2 separate regions of the Homo sapiens genome follow, and region 2 is linked to region 1. Evidence: fine-mapped expression QTL. A gene starts in region 1. The other region holds a variant in brackets. All regions are shown on one strand. Distances are from middle to middle.

Region 1 (9,248 bases):
TCTATATTTTTAATATGCTATTGTCTATCTCCTGTGATAGTATCTAAGTTTCTTAGGGGCAATTATTTTTGTCTCTTGCTTATTTTAGTATCCTGGCCAAAGAGTAGTGCCTGGCACATAGAAGGTTTCAAAAAATTTGTTCAATGGGCCAGGCACAAACCTGTAATCCAAGCTCAATCCTTTGGCTCAAACCTGTAATCTGAGTACTTTGGGAGGCTGAGGCAAGAGGATCATGTGAACCCAGGAGTTCACAACCAGCCTGGGCAACATAGTGAGACTCTGTCTCTACAAAAAAATAAAATAAAAAAATTTAGCAAAGTGTGGTAGCGCACACTTGTAGTCCAAGCTACTGGGAGTGCTGAGGTGGGAGGATCACTTGAGCCCCTGGGTTTGAGGTTGCCGTGATGATGCCACTGCACTCCATCCTGGGCAACAAAGCGAGACCCTGTCTCAAAAAAAAAAAATGTGGAATGAATGACCATCTAACATGTCATCAAAGGCAGGGTAAGGGAATTGAGAATTTGGATTGAATTTAGGATTTAGAGAAAAAAATTATTTAATGTTTATACCTGAGTTGAGATTCCTTAATAAACATATTATTAGATTGAAGACTTAACAGTAACAACAAAGATTACTGTGACTTGGTTTACCAATATATAAAATGAAAGATAGGCTTAATCTATACAACTTTGAACTCTAAGGCAGGAGGGCTAGTTTTATGGACTCTGATGTGTGTGGTAGATTTTAAAAACAAAATACTACTCTATTTTGTGTCTCCTTTTATTAAAATTGAAGTTGATTTCTCCATGTTTTGAATCTGGGCATGGCCATGTGGCTTGCTTTGGCCAGTAGAACATTAGCAAGCAGAGGTATAAAATGCTATTTTGAATTGGGGCTTTCCTTCTTTTGCTGCTGGGAACTAGGAACTCACCATACGAAGAAGCCATATGGGAATACCCTGTCATCCTTGCCATCCGGATGAGGCTCCAAGCTCCGCATGTCTGCAGCTGCATGAGTAGGCCCAGGAGAACAACACTGCTCAGCTGATTTTAGCTCCAGTTACTGATTCACAGAATTGTGAGCTAATGAATAATTGTTGCTTTAGGCTACTATGTGTTGGTGTGGTTTGTTACACACTAAAGGCTAACTGATATAGTGTGTTTGGGTGCATTATCTACTAATACTATGTTCTATTGTTAAAAACTGTCAAGACACACAGCTTCAGCTCATCTGTCTGTGAGTGATACCTGGGGAATAGAGGAACATACACAGGAAGCCCTGGAGAACTGGGTTTGAGCCTAGTGATGCTACTTCTTGGCCGTGTGACCTGGGGGCAAATTGCTTAACCTTTTTGAACCTTGGTTTTCTTATACATATAAAATAAAGAACAGGCCTAAAATACTGCCCTAACCTCTTGCAACTAAAAATCTATCTAAAGACAGCAACATCAGCATGGTGTGGGAACTTGTTAGAAATGCAGAATCTCTGATCCCACCCCAGATCTGCTGAATCAAAATCTGGAGTTTAACAAGATCCTCAGGCAACTTGTATGCCCATTACACACTGCCTTATCATGCTGGAATCACTCAAAATCACCAGATCCCTTTTTTTTTCTTTGAGATGGAGTTTTGCTTTTGTCGCCCAGGGCGGAGTGCAGTGGGGCTATCTCAGCTCACTGCAACCTCCGCCTCCCGTGTTCGAGAGATTCTCCTGCCTCAGCCTCCTGAATAGCTGGGATTACAAGTGCCCACCACCACGACCGGCTAATTTTTTTTTTTTTTTGTATTTTTAGTAGAGATGAGGTTTCACCATGTTGGCCAAGCTGGTCTCGAACGCCTGACCTCAGATGATCCACCCGCCTTGGCCTCCCAAAGTGCTGGGATTACAGGCGTGAGCCACCGCGCCCAGCCAAAATCACCACATCTTTAATATCCCTAACAGTGAAGAGCCACCAGCCTTTCCCTGGGATCTATCTTTCCTTTCCAATCTTGTGGGGAAACTTGGTCTGGGATATTTTTCTTGGCTTCTTCACAGGCAGACAGCTTCAGCTGCTGAGGAGCTTTTTTTCCAGGCTCAGCTAAAATTACAGCTTAGTAGTTGAGCTGGGGAGTGGTCAGTGGGGCCTCAGCCCCCTCTTGCTTAAGGATGCCCAGTTGGTTAAACTTTTGATGATTATTACCCCCATCTCTTAGCCCTGCCTGGAAATGGCCAGGATGTGCCAGGGGAATGAGTCTTTTGCATCTACAACTGCCCCTGCCCATCAGAGCCTGGACTATTGTTTGCACACACATTCCCCCTCCATTTCTTACACTTCACGCCCCGTCTGGCCCTTTCTTTCCTCCTGGCCAGCCGGACCGGCTCAGGCGGCTGAGCATGCCTAGTGCAGCTGCGAGCATGGCCCCAGTCCCCAATGCGCAGGTGCCACGTCTCCGGGTTTTGGTGGCCGCCGGCCGGGAGAAGGAGGAGGCGGAGTGGGGAGGAGGGAGCCCTCCGGAGTTCGGGAGCAGCACGTTGTGAGGGTCCACACAAGGGTGATGCCAGACCGAACACCATTAGGGCCTGGGTGTGAGTGTGACTCGGAGGCACCTGGGGGCCGTTGTAGGGCCGGGAAAAGCCAGGAACTGGCTGGAGCAGCACCCCAGCATCCCAGGGACCAAAGTCTGGGGGATTTGCATGTCTGAGGTTGCACTTGTGGGAAGACTTTTTGGAACCACTTAATCTCTGTGGCTCTGTGTAAGACCCGCGAAATAAAAAGAGGCAGTAGTACTCTTTGGAAGATTGTTTTAGGGATTAAATGAATAAAAAGCGTTTAGAACACTGCAGGACGCATTGTAGGCGCTGTATGGGTTTATGAAACCGAATATAAACAAATAAGCACGTCCCCCACCCAGCCAACGGCTTTGGGGGCCCCGTTCTGGCCAGTCCTGAGCCCCTCCACACGGCCCACGGCGGGCTGCGGGTCTCCCATCCGAGGAGGGTGCCGCTTTTCTGCCCCCGCTCCCTGGGTTCTGCGCCCAGCGCCATCCCGTGCGCCCCCGACCCTTGGGCATGGGGCACATGCCGCGGGGAGCCGCCAGGGAGACCCCAGAGGAGCGCGCCGCGGGCCGGCTTCCCCGGATGCCCCACCCACCTCCTCTTGGCGCTGCCCACCACCTGCCTCGGCTGCTCGGCCCCCGGCTCGCGAGGCTGCGCCCCCGACCCAGTCGGCGCCCACTCCTCGCCCTGCGGGCTCGCGGCAACTGGGCGGCCGGCCCGGCCCCTGCCCACCCCCAGCCCAGCCCGGCGCGCCGCACTGGGCATGCTCCGTAGCCTGGGCAGGTTGGGGCTGCGAGGCGACAGCTCGGGCTCTGGAGCCGGGAGGCGAGAACGAGGAGGGAGGCTCGGGGGCAGGGGAGGAGGAAGCGGCTGGCCGCTGAGGGGCGGCGGGGCCCGGAGCGGGGGACGCGCAGGGCCCGGCGGTGGGCGGGCGGGTCGGCGCTGCCCCGTGGGCTCGCTGGGGAGCCACGGCGGAGACCCCCGCCCTCAACTGAGGTAAGGACCGCGCGGCGCGGAGACGGGGAGGCGGGGAGGCCAGGGAGGGGGTGCGGAGGCAGGCGGGAGGGCGGGACTGGGGTGCGCCGGGAGGGGGCTTGGCGGCGGCTCTTTATGGCGAGGAGGGGGTGGTGGCGCCGCGCCGGGAGCAGTAAGTGAGCTGCACCGCCAACAAGATCTCTCACACACAGACACACACACGCACACGCACACACGGGCGCGCACACACACGCGCGTACACACTGGGTCTCCAGGCAGCGGCCGTCGCCGCATCCCCGGCAGCAGCTCCAGGCAAAGTGACAGGTAGGAAAAGGCATTTCGGGTCCCGCCCGAGGATGCTCCCGCCCGCCTTGGCCCTCAGGGCTTGTTTGCTTTCCGCGGGTGCGTCCCGGACGCGCGCGCGCGCGCACCCGGATGCCCAGCGGGGACCCCGTGCAGGTGCCGGGTGCCAGGCGCCCTGTGCGCGCGGGAGGCAGGGGACCCAGACGCCATCCCCCTTCCCCTGCAGTCATCGCCTGCTGGGTTTCCTCAGACTCTCTCCAGACGTTCACCCTCTTCTGGGCTAGAAATAGCTCGGCTCGACGTGTATATGATTATTTTGGTTGGAAATAGTTGGCACCGTGCAACGCATGTAAATGTGTATGCGTGTGGATCTTCTTGCCTCTTCTGGGGAAATCATAGAAATGATTGACCGTTTCCACTTAAAACAACACTGACAGGCTTAGCACTCATTGGGGGCAGGGTTCGGGCCTCCTAAAAGCCTGTTAGTGAAGGAAATCCTTATTTTCAGAATTTTAAAGTTGCTTTTGCTTTAACCAATTAGACTCTGTATAGTACAATACTTCTGAGTGTAGACTTCGTATATGGTACTGAATCGAAGTATGGAAATATGGAATTCTCTAATTTCCAAGTGTGTTTAAGTGCAACTTTATCTAGAATCATAAAACTAGCATTTTCCTAGAGAGAAATACAACTGCCCACTATAGTTTCCATAAATATGGATATATCTGAAAGATGACCCTACTCTTCCAACTTTTTTTCCTCTTAACTTCTGTAGTGATTCTAGCTATTGTTCTAAAACATGTATTTGAAATTTAATTTTGGCCAGAATATTCAGGAAAGGTGTTTTTTTTTCCATATACGTAATACTTAGTGGTCTATATATTTAAGTTATAGGTATGTGGAGATAGCTGTTTAATAATTCTTTTTGTCTGGAAATAACGTTATTCAAACATAGGCAGCTATGTATCATTTTAAAATGATATTGAATTTCCCCTTAAAGAGAAATCAGATTTATAATGTAAACATGACCAGGAAAAGCAACTGGTGACTTTACCTGGGGAGGCTCCAAGGAGGTTAAGAAAGTATCTGAACAACTGTGTTTTTCAGAATAGAAAAATTGTGTGTGTGTTGCGGGGGAAGGTAAAATTTTAACTTTATTCTTTTATTGTTTTCAAGACGGCTGTTTTCAGAAATGTGTGGTTGAACTGAGACCCTCATATTTTATACTCTTCAAATTTGAGTGGCCTCAGTTATAGAATCATACAGAAGATCAAAAGTCTAGCTCAGCAGGGGCATGTGGTGTAATCCCTCACTATCTGTGTTATGTAATCCAGAATGCTGTTTTTCATAGGACAGTCTTGCATGATCCTTAGCTGGTGTATTGATCTATTATATCATCTTCCTTTTGAACTGTAGTAGTTTAATAAATGATTGCCATCTTTGGAGAGCACCTGTTTTCATAAAAAATCACTTTTTGAAATGGCAAAACATTTTTATTGGCACTTTTATGAACGTAAGACTTGCTGCCAGACGAGTAACCTTTTGAATGTGACGTATTATAACATATCTAAAGGTACCATGTATTAGCTTATGGACTACACTTCCTTCCAACTATATTATTACTCAACAGTTGGAACTTAGTTTTGATGGTATTACTACCCAGCTCTGAATTAATCGCTGTTGAAAATGCTGTTCTACAAGTAACTGTCAAAACAGAATTTCTAACTCCATTTGATCACTGGGTGCACATTTAAATCTGTCGGAATAACTCTACCTTTATTTTGCAAATGCATACCCACGCAGAAAGCTTTGTTCTAAAATACTCTATTGGAAGTTTTATATTTATATGCCTGAAAATGTGAGTGATGTTAAACTGCTTACATGTCCTGGAATCGTGAGGCGGTGTGTTTTTGCCTTATGAGATAAAGAAATATGGTAGTTGAAAAAGTGTTACAGGTTACCAAAAACCTTTTGCAGGAAAAGATTTTAAAAATTTGTATCACCTCTGAAATATTTCAACCACAGCAGAGTCCATTCAGTGCCCGTAGCACAGCTAGTTTGCCTTTCCCAAGATTACACACAACTGTCTTTAGATTAATGTATACTGCTGACTTTGGCAACATGGGACAGTTATATTTGGCAATTTCAGTAAACATGGTATTTTCCTAAGATACCACTAACTTCATTTTGGGGTTTGATTTATTAAGAATTGAAATGTTTGCCTGGTATTCATCTTTACCTCACCCTCTAAGTAAAATTGAGGTAAAAGTGAGCTTCAGGGCTGCTGTGCTGTTTTCCTTGTGATCACATTAGCATGCTAATTTGTGAAAGGATGTAACAATATAAGTGAAATTAGCTTCTGAGTTTAGTGTCTGAATTTTCATCCCCAGTTTTTCAGATGTAGCTGGAAAACTCAAATAACAGAATTAATGAAAAAATTTTGCAGATTATTAAAAAAAATTAGTAATTAGCTGAGTTTGATTTTTTATTTTGAAATCTTGAGAGTAAATTTTATCTTTTCGGATTAGAGCACTTAGGTAATGTAAGAAAGATTTTGGATTTCTCATGCTCTCCACACTTAATAGTAAACTATTTTTGAGGAAGTATAAATTTTCTTTGAAACTTAAAATTATTTAGCAGGCTGTGACTAAATTTTTGTTTGTGATCACTTATAAAGTAAGGGTGAAACAGCATGTTGATTAGCACCGCCGACCCAGGTCTTTTAATAAACTGTCTATCTACCACAGTTGAGTCCCTGTAAAACCAAGAACTTCTGTATTTGATATGCAAAATTAGGTCAAGGACTAATGGAGATGCTTTAATGATCACAGTTGGTATTTTATGTCCAGATTGAAGTTTTTAAAATAGTTGCTTTTCACCTCATAATATATGAATGTGTAGGCCATATTAGTGTCTGTCAAGGAGACTTATCTGCCTGTTGGGAAATAAATACAGCTTTTCATCGCTGGTGGGAGGCAGCAGTGACTTTCTGTGGTTTTGCTGTTGGTTTTCAGATGTGAACTGTGTTTGCAAGGACACTGCTTAATTCTCAGTGCTGTCCATTCCACATTTTCCTATTTCCCTCTCATATTGGGAAAATGAATAAACTTGTGTAGCTCTTTCTTCTATTCCTTAGTATTTGTTTGTTTAATAGTTTTGCTTTTGATAAAGCCTCACCCTTTAAAGTAGAAATACTTTCTCAAATTGTAATATTATTTATCTAGTTATGCCTTAGAATGATATAAAGGTTTTACATGTTCCTAGGCTGTGATTCTTTAGCTAACCAAGTATAAAAATGAGTTTACTTCCTTGCCAGTGGAGGCAGACCTGGGTGATTATGCATTACTGAGTGGATGAGTGTGATGTTTACATTGTCTTGGTTGGAATTAAGCTTGCTTTGAAAATATCACCCTGGAATAACTTTTATTTGCAAGGCCCACTTCACTCCTTTGCAGCAACCACTCCCAAACCCCATTTTCTGGGTGGAAGGGTAGAAAGAGTCTGGGTGGAAGCTCACGACTTTGGATGCTTTTTTATGCTGAAGGCGTAACCCAAGTTTCTAGAGGAGATGAAAGTAATAATGCTGTACCTTTCAAATCTCAGCTAGGAGATCCTTATGTTCCAGGGAATGAATGACCAGCAGAGTGTTTATTTTCCCTGCATGCACTTCGTCTACTTTTCCTTTCCTTTATCAAATAAAAATAGTTGAAATGGACATAAATCCAAGGTTTTTCTCTGAACACCTCTCTTACTCACTACTTATAAAACCTTCAATGAGAATGTCACACACCATGTGACCATAAGATAGTGTTATCTTCTCCCCTTTCCTGGGATTCTCCTTCAAAGCTCAAAGGATCTTTTGGTATGCCTAGGGCTGGGAAATTCCACCTCTAGCTACGGAAATACCCTTGGGCCAGGCAAATCATGGCTTTAAGATACATTGCCCTTCTTGTCCTCCCGAACAATTAAAGCATGTCTTTGGCTCCCAGACATGAGTGAATTGAAGTAGCCATTTCCTTAGAAACAGGAAGAAAAAAGCAACTTGAAGTAATTAATTGTAAGCAGCTCATCCAGAGATCAGAGACCACAGACCACAGACCCCTGATTTTACATTTGACATCTCCCTTTCTTCTCTAGAACAGGAGTTCTTCATTTTAGGGCCAAGGATGCAGTTTGGTGGGTCCACGAATGTGGCTGGCAAATGAATTACATCTTTATATTCACTTACTTCCAAGTGACAATTGGGGCAGGTGTTAGGGCTACTACTAGATCTTGGCATTTAGTGGGTTGAAGAGAAACACATGTATTACTTCACATATCCCTTTAAAGAGTTATTTTGATAATTATATTTCAATGAGATTGATTTCCATTGTACTTTTAGGTATTTAATTTTATATATTTAAACATATTATGCTGGGCCAGGCATGCTGGCTCACACCTCTAATGCCAGCACTTTGGAAGGCTGAGGTAGGAGGATTACTTGAGGCCAGGAGTTTGAGACCAGCCTAGGTAACACAGTAAGATCAATTTATGCAAAAAATACCAATAAAAAAATTAGCTGAGTGTGGTGCACATGCCTGTAATCCTAGCTACTTGGAAGGCTGAGGCAGGAGGATCGCTCAAGCCCAAGAGTTCAAGGTTATAGTAAGCTGAGATCGCATCAGTGCACTCTAGCCTGGGTGACAGAGTGACAGTCTATTAAAAAATAATAATAAAATGAAAATATCCTGCTGAAAAGGGTCTTTAAGATTTACCATATTGCGAAGGGCATTCATGACCCACACAAGGCGAAGACCATGTGCTCGAGAAATGCTTCCTCCCAGAGGCAGCTGGCTGGGTGGGTGTTTTCACTGTGGGTTTGCATTGAGCAGTGGTTGCTGAGATCTTCAGGCGTTGGAATCAGGCACTGAATTCCTGACAAATGCCCTGTTTTAGCTTGAATGCTGACAGATGCCCTCTTTTAGCTGTGTGACCCTGGGCATTCACTCTGAGCCTCAGTTGCCCTATCTGTAAAATGAGGAGAATAACCCTATGGGGCAAAAGTGCTTGGTGCTGCACTGTGAATGATACAGGGTACTGTTACTGCTGCTACTACAGGTGCTCAAAGGATCCCAGGATCTTTGGGTGTGCCCAGGTTTGGGAAATTCCACCTGTAGCTACGGAAACACCCTTGGGCCAGGAAAATCATTACTTTAAGATACATTGCCTTTCTTATGCTCCTGAACAATTAAAAGCATGTTTAACAAGTGCTACTGCCCCTTCTCCTAATGGTACTACTAGTATTATGGCTCTCATCTTGTTCTCTTTCATAGGGGTAGATGGCATTGACCTTATCCATACAAAGCAGCCTGAGAAAATTCCTATAAAATTTACAAGGGACACTTACTTTGCCACTCTGCAAGTACAGAAAGTTTCAGTCACCCCACAGGACCACC
Region 2 (9,248 bases), 49 kb before region 1:
CATGTATTTGGTTTGAGGATTTGGCACATGGAATGCCTTCTTTCATCATAGCCCGCAGTACTCTGGCACTGGAAAATGAAAGTGGAACTCATGTCAAGTTTGAATCTCAAATTATGTCAAAGCATGAGATTATTTTCAGTGCAAAGAGGATTGCAAGAGAGGGCTTACATTTTATGATTGTGGAAAATTAAGAAAAAATACCTTTGGAAGAGAGAAAGTGGAAATATTATCATATCTTTATTTGACTTCAGCGTTTGTATTTTTCATCCCAATTGATAGATAAAAATGGGCAAGAAAATAAATGTATATATTTAGAGAACTGGTTTGTCAAAATATAGCCAAATATCATATTAGTCACTGGGTTATTTTACAAATATTAATAAAATAATAATATTAAAATAACAAACTTAGGCAAACTTACTATCTCCCAGGCACTGTTCAAATTGCTGCATACACATGAATTAATTAAATCTTCTACTAATGAGAAAACAAGTAATGGAGAGTTTAAGCAAATTTTCCAATGTCTCTCAGAGCTGTGGTTTGAACCCCAGCATTCTGGCTCCAGAGTCTGTTAACCACTACATGTGTATGGCCGAAGTTTTAATTGTAAATCTATGGAAAAGATGAGTCAAATGTTATGAACTGCCACATTCAGTGGCATTATGGACTTTTTTGGATTATGGATCTTTTTTGATGGTTGGACATACTAACCAGAGCATAAAAAGTTCTGAAAATACAGGCATTCACTCATTTGACAATTAAATCCTTCTTCAACAACTGTACTCAGCCCTAAGGACATCACAGCAAACAAGCCTTCCTTCCAATTCTTAAAAGGATTCAGTCTCCCAAGGAGACAGGAAAGCTGGGAATTTAAATACAGAGTTATAAGTGTTAAGATGGGGAGGCATCACGGGCATACAAAAAAGAAGCTACTGATTCAGACTTTTTGGTGGAAGGAAATCACAGAAGCCTTCTTAAAGGTGGTGACTTCCAATCAGAGATCCCGGTAAAATAAGACTTTAACCTGTTGAGGCAAAACTAAGGGGTTGCAGGTTTTGGAGAAGTGAAAGAGTCCAGATAAAGAAAGCAGCATATGAATGAGGCACTTCTCTTCCAATTAAGAAATTTTAAAACCACCTTGAGTATATGTGCCTATTATTATAATAGTTTATAATTAATAATAATTAATACTTTAAATTGGATTTAATAAAATTAGCAGCTATTATTTTCTCATTTTGGAGGAATATGGGAATGGTAGATTATAAAATGACTGTACCTTTTTCTCCTCTTTATTTTTATTTTTATTTTTTATTTTTTTGAGACAGATTCTCACTCTGTCACCCAGGCTGGAGTGAAGTGGCATGATCTTGGCTCACTGCAATGTCTGCCTCCCAAGTTCAAGCAGTTCTCCTGCCTCAGCCTCCCGAGAGGCTGGGATTACAGGTGCCCACAAACTCACCTGGCTAGTTTTTGTATTTGTACTAAAGACAGGGTTTCACCATGTTGGCCAAGCTGGTCTCGAACTCCTGACATCAAGTGATCCACCCGCCTCAGCCTCTCAAAGTGCTGGGATCACAGGCATGAGCCACTGCACCTGGCTCCTCCTTATTTTTAGAACATAGCACTTTTAGATGTGTAATTCATCTAGGAATATGTATATGTGTGTGTGTTATACCCATGAGAGAGGTATTCAAAATCTTTGGGAATTTTGACACTGCATCAACCCATAAGGCCAAAACCCAGGTACTATATAAAAATGTATACATATTTTCCCCTACAAAGCTATTCTGCCCCAACATCGCTCATATAAATATTATTTTTTACATCATTATGAAACGAACATCCATCATGTCTCTATGTATCCTCATATAAAAAGTACGGTTTGCTTATCTCTGAAAGGTTATATAACCACTAAAAAAAAAAAAAAAAAAAATCCAGTAATGTGTTTTTCATTTGTTTCAGTTGCATAAGTAGGTGTCCTATTTTGCAATAAATGAAAGACCACCATTGATAGTAAAACTGCAGAGAACATTTTGTCAATGTTTCAGGAATGCTTTTTGAAGCAACCCATGACTTTCTTTTCTGTTTCAAGAAGATCCGTATCAAAGAGAACTAAAATACATTGAAACCGTGCTAGTCATTAGAGCTGGCATCTCTCTGTATTAGGTTAGTGGTATCAAGGTACTTACACACCCCAAGAGCTGTATTTAGTTAAGTGCAAAAGTACAGGCTCTTCCATTCAGGCAGGGTAAGTGTTCCTTTATCCTGGAAGCAGTCTACCCTGAATTAACATGTGTCTTAACATAATGTTATTTCTTTTGATGCTGGGGTTTAAAGGAGACACATGAACTTCCTGAAGCCACCAAGACATCATCCAGTTTTGTTTTGTTTTTTAACTCTTTGATAATTTAAACAAAACACCAAGCAGTGCTGCTTCTGAATAATGCTCACGGAACAATGTATTTTAATGTACCCTCTGTATTTCTCCACTCTAAAGGACATTTTAGACCTTTTGTTTTAGCATTATCACCCAGCTACAGATCTGGCAGAGCAACATGGTGTGCAATTTTGTGTCAGTCTACATAATTCATCAAAAATAAACAAGAAAAATTTAAGAAAGCAAAAGAAAATTATAACTAGTAATGAGTCAGTATATAACATAGGCTGAATTACATTATGGTTTGTACAAATATTAAAGTCGTGGTTTCATATTTTTTTTTAATTTTTGTATCTACTCAAAAATCAATTGCAAACTAGAAGCTGACTATGGCTTATATAACTGGCTAAAAGCACAAAGATATGAAGGGAAAATGGGAAACCAAAATTGACATTATGGAAATATTGTTAGAACAATATAGAAAGAAAGTGTTTTGAAGAGAGATACAGTTATGTTATATAACAAGGAAAGGTGCCCTGAAATGTTAACATGACTGTTTCCATTTTCTGTGAAGATTTCTATCTCCAAGTCTCAAGTACATCATAACGGGTACAACTAGATCCTATTACAGAAGAGCCTTGTGTCAGTGACTTCAGGGTTATCTACATGACATTGTTCCTGGTTTAACTGAATATAATAGTGCTGCATTTATTCAGCATCACTGGATAATCTTTAAATAATGAAATCCTCTTCCTGTAAGCTACAAAACTTTTTTTTTCTTTTTTAATCAGGTTACTCTACCACTTAAAGATTAAGACTCCACAGTACTTGGGAGTACAAAAGCCAAACTCCTTGAATAGCCTGCAATGACTTCCTCACAGCGTTTCTAGCATTTTCTCTGTCTTACTTCAAAAATAAATACCCCAGCCATGCAATTGTTTCACGACCCTCTGCCTACTAAAATCTGCCCTAGCTCACCCCCTTAACCAAACCAAAATGATCCTAAGACTTCCCAGCCTGTTCAGTTCCTCTCTTTATTTGTTTTCCCCATCTCTTCCCTTGTCATCAGTTTCACTCTTCGCTTCCTCCAGGACAATGGAAACAAAATTTGAGCATGCATCAGAATCACCTGAGAGGCTTGTTGAACCACAGGTGGCTGGATCACACCCCCACATTTCTATTTCACTAGGTCAGGGGTAGACCCAATCTTTGCATTTCTAGCAAGTCCTCAGCGCATGCTGATGCCCCTGGTCCCAAGATTATATTTTGAGAACTCCAGGAGATCACTTTTCTCCTTTTAATTGCTCTTTCAAATTTCCAGAAGGCTTTCAAACCAGATAACTAATCTTATTAGACTGAACACACAGCTAAAAATAAATGTCAACTAAGAGAGAGTCTAAGGAGATTTCCTCTAAGACAAGTGAGTTTTGGTTTGTGGTCTTTGTGACATCTATTTTGGTTTCTCAGAGATCTTTTGCATAACACCCTCAGTGCTAGCCTGTGTCCTGGGTGGTTCAAGCTACAGAATCATTGATCTCTAGATGACTGAGTTGTTATTCTACCATGAG[C/T]TATAGTTGTTGTGAATTCTATCACTTTCAAATTTTTGCACAGTTATTATAACCAAGCAGAACTCACCAATAGAATGTCTTTGAGCTAGTGTTCTCAAACTTTCACATGCATAAGAATCTCCTAGGAGATCTTGTTGCAAATTCTAATTCAGCCAGTCTGGGTTGGGGTCCACAGGATTCTGCAATTTTTTTTTTTTTTTTTTTTTTTTTGAGACAGAGTCTCATTCTGTCACCCAGGCTGGAGTGCAGTGGCGCGATCTTGGTTCACCACAACCTTAGCCTCCCAGGTTCAAACAATTCTCCCTGCCTCAGCCTCCTGATTAGCTGGGATTACAGGCACGCACCATCACTCCTAGCTAATTTTTATATTTTTAGTAGAGACGGGGTTTCACTATGTTGGCCAGGCATGCCTCAATCTTCTGACCGCAAGTGATCCACTCAACTCGGCCTCCCGAAGTGCTGGGATTACAGGCATAAGCCATGCAGCCAAGATTCTGCATTTCTAATGAGCTCCCAGGTGATGCTGATGCTACTGGTCCATGAACCATACTTTGAGGGAAAAAAGGTATTAGGTTGTCTTTGGAGAACTCCACCCAAATAATTTTTGACTTAGTTAAAAAATAGAGCGTCATGAAGAAACTCAGTAGACACTCAAAACAATTGACACTTCTGCAGGTTAAAATCATCTTTTATCAAATCCTTGTAATTGCCATGTCTGTTACTCACTCATGTTGTAGTCATAGTTAGGTAGTATTTATCCACAAATTCAGCCTTGCAGCAATCTGTCATATTCAGGTGAGTGCCAAACACCAGCAAGCATCTCTTTGAGGGACAACAGACAGTTGTCAATGGTCTTCTACAGGCTCACTACATGTTGTGTTTGTATACCTCAAGGGAATCTGTTTGATAGCACCAAAAATAGCAGGGCTTTTTTTTTTTTTCTCCCAAGATAAGACAGTATACTATGTACTCCTCACTCTGGGATCAGGAGACCATTGTCTTGGGTTTTCTAGAAGCAGAGCCTGAACCAAGGATGTGTGTGCACATAATTTATTAAGGAGGTACGTTCAGAAGACCTATGGGAGAGAGAAGGAAGTAGAATACAGAATTGGAAGGAACCAAGCAAGGGTGAGGCCTCAAGAATGGTAGCCTCAACCTGATCGGTGTGGGGGTGCTCTGGAGCACAAATTGCATAGCAAAGTTGTCTGGTACTGGGTCAAAGAGACCAGGCTTTTGTGCCCTCTTACTTATTAGTCACAGCCACTTGGTCATGGGAGAGTTAACCTGCCAGGCATCTCCAGACCAGGTGACTCCCATCAGTCAAGGGCAATTCTCCAGGGAAGGGTGCAACTGTGAGCCATTAGCTGCAGCTCTCGTGGCAGCTGAAGGATGAGGGTGCAGGACAGTAAACAGGATACGAGTGGAGAACCAACAGTGCCAATTGGGAGTGAAAATGGATACACCAGTGGACACAGATTGCTTAAAATGAGGGCTCCTCTTCATGGGCAGATAAACAAACCCTTTCCATAGGAAGTCTTTAGGGGGGATATGGGAATTACGGGCTAGCATGGATACAGAGAGGCCACGTGAGAGAAGCAAACAGCTAGCCTGAGTCGTTGCTCATGACAGAAGAAACATGGGCACATTTAGGACCCAGAAGCAAATCTCTGGGTTTTAAATTAGGTCCTAGTCAGGAACTCAGCAGGGAGGAATAGGGAGATGTCTTGGGTAACTTGTGGACTAACAATGCAGTCTCTGTTCTGCAAATCCTTCCCCAGGAGAAAGCTTGGCAGACCTGTATGCATTCTATGGGGCTTTCCTTTCCAGTTACCTTTCCACAGGCTTCACTTTCTCCAAGTTTGTGCTCTCCCAAGAAATCAAAGAGGCCTTCTGTCCTATCAGATGACAAACATCTCACTTTCTTGGCACCTCTCCAAGAATAAGCAAATGCCAGACTTCTAGATTTTCGTAAATGAAAGATTCCAAAACCTAGAAAATCCTTTCCAGGGCTGATGGGAATATATGTATATATAAAAAGCTGTCAGTTATTTCTTGACCCCAATGTCTGTGCATTTCAAAGTTAATTGCATTTATTTTCTATGTCATATCTTTCTGGTTTTAAACAAAGTTATGTAAAACAAAGACAAATTTAGTTTTAAATGTTCTAATAAGGCAATATTTTGTCCCCAGGATAAACATTCTAAACATTTCTTTGTGCTAAAATTGAATAATGCTTTCTAGTTGTGGAAGGTAAGTACCTTTGGGAACAAACACAATATCGTCTATTCACCACCTTAAAATTAATTTAAAAAAAAAAACTGTATTAGCAAGGAGTGAAAGACTTTGTCTAGACAGCTTCCTTTAGGCAGAATGAACAGCGGCCAGTGCAGCTGGATGTTCTGCCCTTTGGGATATGGGCAGTCATAGACAGCTGAGGGTTCAGGAAGGAAAGGAGGTAGCTAGGGAGATTCTCCACATCTTGACAGAGCAGTAGAGCAAGCTTCAGAACATCATGCTTCTCTGGGGTCCCATTAAGATCCCATTAAGGATCCATTAGGGTGGGCAGCCAGTACAGGCTGCTACAATGGCAGACTCCTGTATCAGTGCAGCTGGAAGCTCCAGAGAGCATGTTCATTCTGCATTCCAGATTTGGACATAATAAATGCCAAATGAAACTCTTGGTCTGCTCCCTGAACCTGCTCCATCCACAGTCCTGTCCACCCTAGTGAATAGCAACTCCATTCTTCTAGTTGCCCTGGCCAAAGTAACTGTGGTCATCTTTGCCTGATCTCTTTACCTCACAGTCCATGGCCAATCTGTTAGCTAATGTGGTTGGCATTCCCTTTAAAACCAGAACTTCATCATTCTCACCACCTTCACTGTTCTCATGGTCCCAGTCAGCACGATCTCTTGCCTGCACTGTTAGAATATCTCTCTGCATGGCCCTATGATATCCATCCTTGGCCCACAACATTCTTAAGGGGGCAGCAAGAGTGATCCCTCGAAAACACAAATCAGGCCAAGTGTGGTGGCTCACACCTATAATCACAGCACTTTGGGAGGCAGAGTCAGGAGGATTGCTTGAGCCTAGGAGTTACTCCCTGTGTAGCAACACAGGGAGACCCCATCAATACAAAAAATAAAAAAAACTTTCCGGGTGTGGTGGCGCACACCTGTGGTCCCATCTACTCAGGAGGCTGAGGCAGGAGGATCACTTGAGCCTGGGAGTTCAAGAGTGCAATCAACATCATACCACTGCACTCCAGCCAGGGTGACATGTGAGACTCTGTCTCTTAAAAAAGAAAAAAGAGAGGGGTGGGGCTGGGTGCTGTGGCTCACACCTGTAATCCCCGCACTTTGGGAAGCCAAGGCAGGGGGATCATGAGGTCAGGAGTTCAAGACCAGCCTGGCCAAGATGGTGAAACCCCGTCTCTACTAAAAATACAAAAATTAGCTGGGTGCAGTGGTAGGCGCCTGTAATCCCAGCTACTTGGGAGGCTGAAGCAGGAGAATCACTTGAACCCAGGAGGTGGAGTTTGCAGTGAGCCGAGATGGCACTACTGCACTCTAGCCTGGGTGACAGAGCAAGACACCATCTCAAAAAAATAAATAAATAAATAAATAAAAATTAAAATTAAAATTAAAAAATTTGAAAAAAACCTCCACAAATCAGATATATCACAGTCCTCTGTTCAAAACCCTCCAGTGAACCCCATTTCACTCAAAGTAAAGCCAGAGGTTTTAAAAAAACAAAAGCTTCCCAAGCCCTACATGTTCCCCTTCCCTCCTCAACACAGGTATACTAAGTTACCCTTTTTTTTTTTTTGAGACAGAGTCTCACTCTGTCACCCAGGCTGGAATGCAATAGCACTATCTTGGCTCACTGCAACCTCTGCCTCCTGGGTTCAAGGGATTCTCATGCCTCAGCCTCCCAAGTAGCTGGGATTACAGGGGTACACCACCATACTTGGATAATTTTTGTATTTTTAGTAGAGATGGGGTTTCACCATGTTGGCCAGGCTGATCTCAAACCCATGACCTCACGTGATCTCCCCACCTGAGCCTCTGAAAGTGCTGGGATTACAGGCACGAGCCACTGCACCAGCCCAACTTTTAAACTCTTTACCTAACGTAACTCCCCTTGTTCCCTCCAACACTGGCCTCTTGCTGTTTCTGGAACTCTCCAGGCATAATCTCACCTTGGGACCTTTGCCTGGAACAATATTTCCTCCCAGCATGGCTAGCTCCCATGCCTCAGGCAAGTCTTTACTGGAATGTCACCTTCTCATTGCCTGATCTATTTAAATAATAATCCCCCTGCCCTAGCACTCACACTCCCTATCATTCTTCTGATTATTTTTCTCCTTTAATTCTTATCACCATTCAATATACAGTACTGAATATTTTACTCATATATATGTTTAATTGTGTATGTTCCCCAGTAGAATATAAGTGCCATGAGAACAGTGGTTTGCACCTGTTGTGTTTGCAAGTTGATGCCCAGTGCCTAGAACAGTGCCTGGCATATTAGTGGCCAGAGGAATATGTAATGGAATCTTGCAATGTGTGAAACACTCCACCAGTTACTGTCTAGACTTTGACCCTGCAACTAGATAATTAGCAAAACAGACAGGGCTTTTTGCTTTTACGGGGCTTAAAATCTACAGTTGTACTGCCCAAGTTAGTAGTACTAGTCACATATGACTACTTAAACTTAAATTAGTTAAAATTAAGTAGAATTGAAATACTATTTTTCTTTTTTTCTTTTTTATTTGAGATGGAGTCTTGCTCTGTCACCCAGTCTGGAATGCAGTGACGTGATCTTGGCTCACTGCAACCTCCGCCTCCTGGGTTCAAGCGATTCTCCTGCCTCAGCCTCTTGAGTAGCTGGGATTACAGGCATGCACCACCATGCCTGGCTAATTTTTATACTTTTGGTAGAGATGGGGTTTCACCATGTTGGTCAGGTGGGTCTCAAACTCCAGACCTCAAGTGGTCCGCCTGCCTTGGCGTCCCAAAGTGCTGAGAGTACAGGCGTGAGCCACTGGGCCCCGCCCAGATACCATTTTCCAATCACACAAACCACATTTCAACAGTCTCATTGGCAACTGGCTTCCATGATGAACAGCCCAGAGGCGGAGCATTTCCAACATCACAGGCAGTTCTGTTGGATAGTGCTGACAGACATGGAGGGTTCCTCTACTCCAATTCCCTCTTTTATAGGTGAGGAAACCAAAGCTCAAGGAAATAGTGACTTGACTAAGATCACACAGCTAGTCAATAACAAATCTAGTATGAAACCC

What was found. PIP is the estimated chance that this variant, and not a neighbour inherited with it, causes the effect. A credible set is the group of variants that fine-mapping cannot tell apart.
Region 2: its variant is the best candidate, but not a certain one, in a credible set for the expression of PLCB4 in fibroblasts (GTEx, PIP 0.74).

Annotation. Positions count from the first base shown.
Region 1 is chr20:9,065,373-9,074,620 of GRCh38, forward strand. PLCB4 (phospholipase C beta 4) reads left to right here and starts at 3,715. Exons shown (of 40, transcript NM_001377142.1): 1 at 3,715-3,834.
Region 2 is chr20:9,016,187-9,025,434 of GRCh38, forward strand. No RefSeq gene overlaps it. Among named protein-coding and RNA genes, the nearest start is that of PLCB4, 48 kb to the right of the region's middle. The variant C/T (reference allele first, on the strand shown) is at 3,946.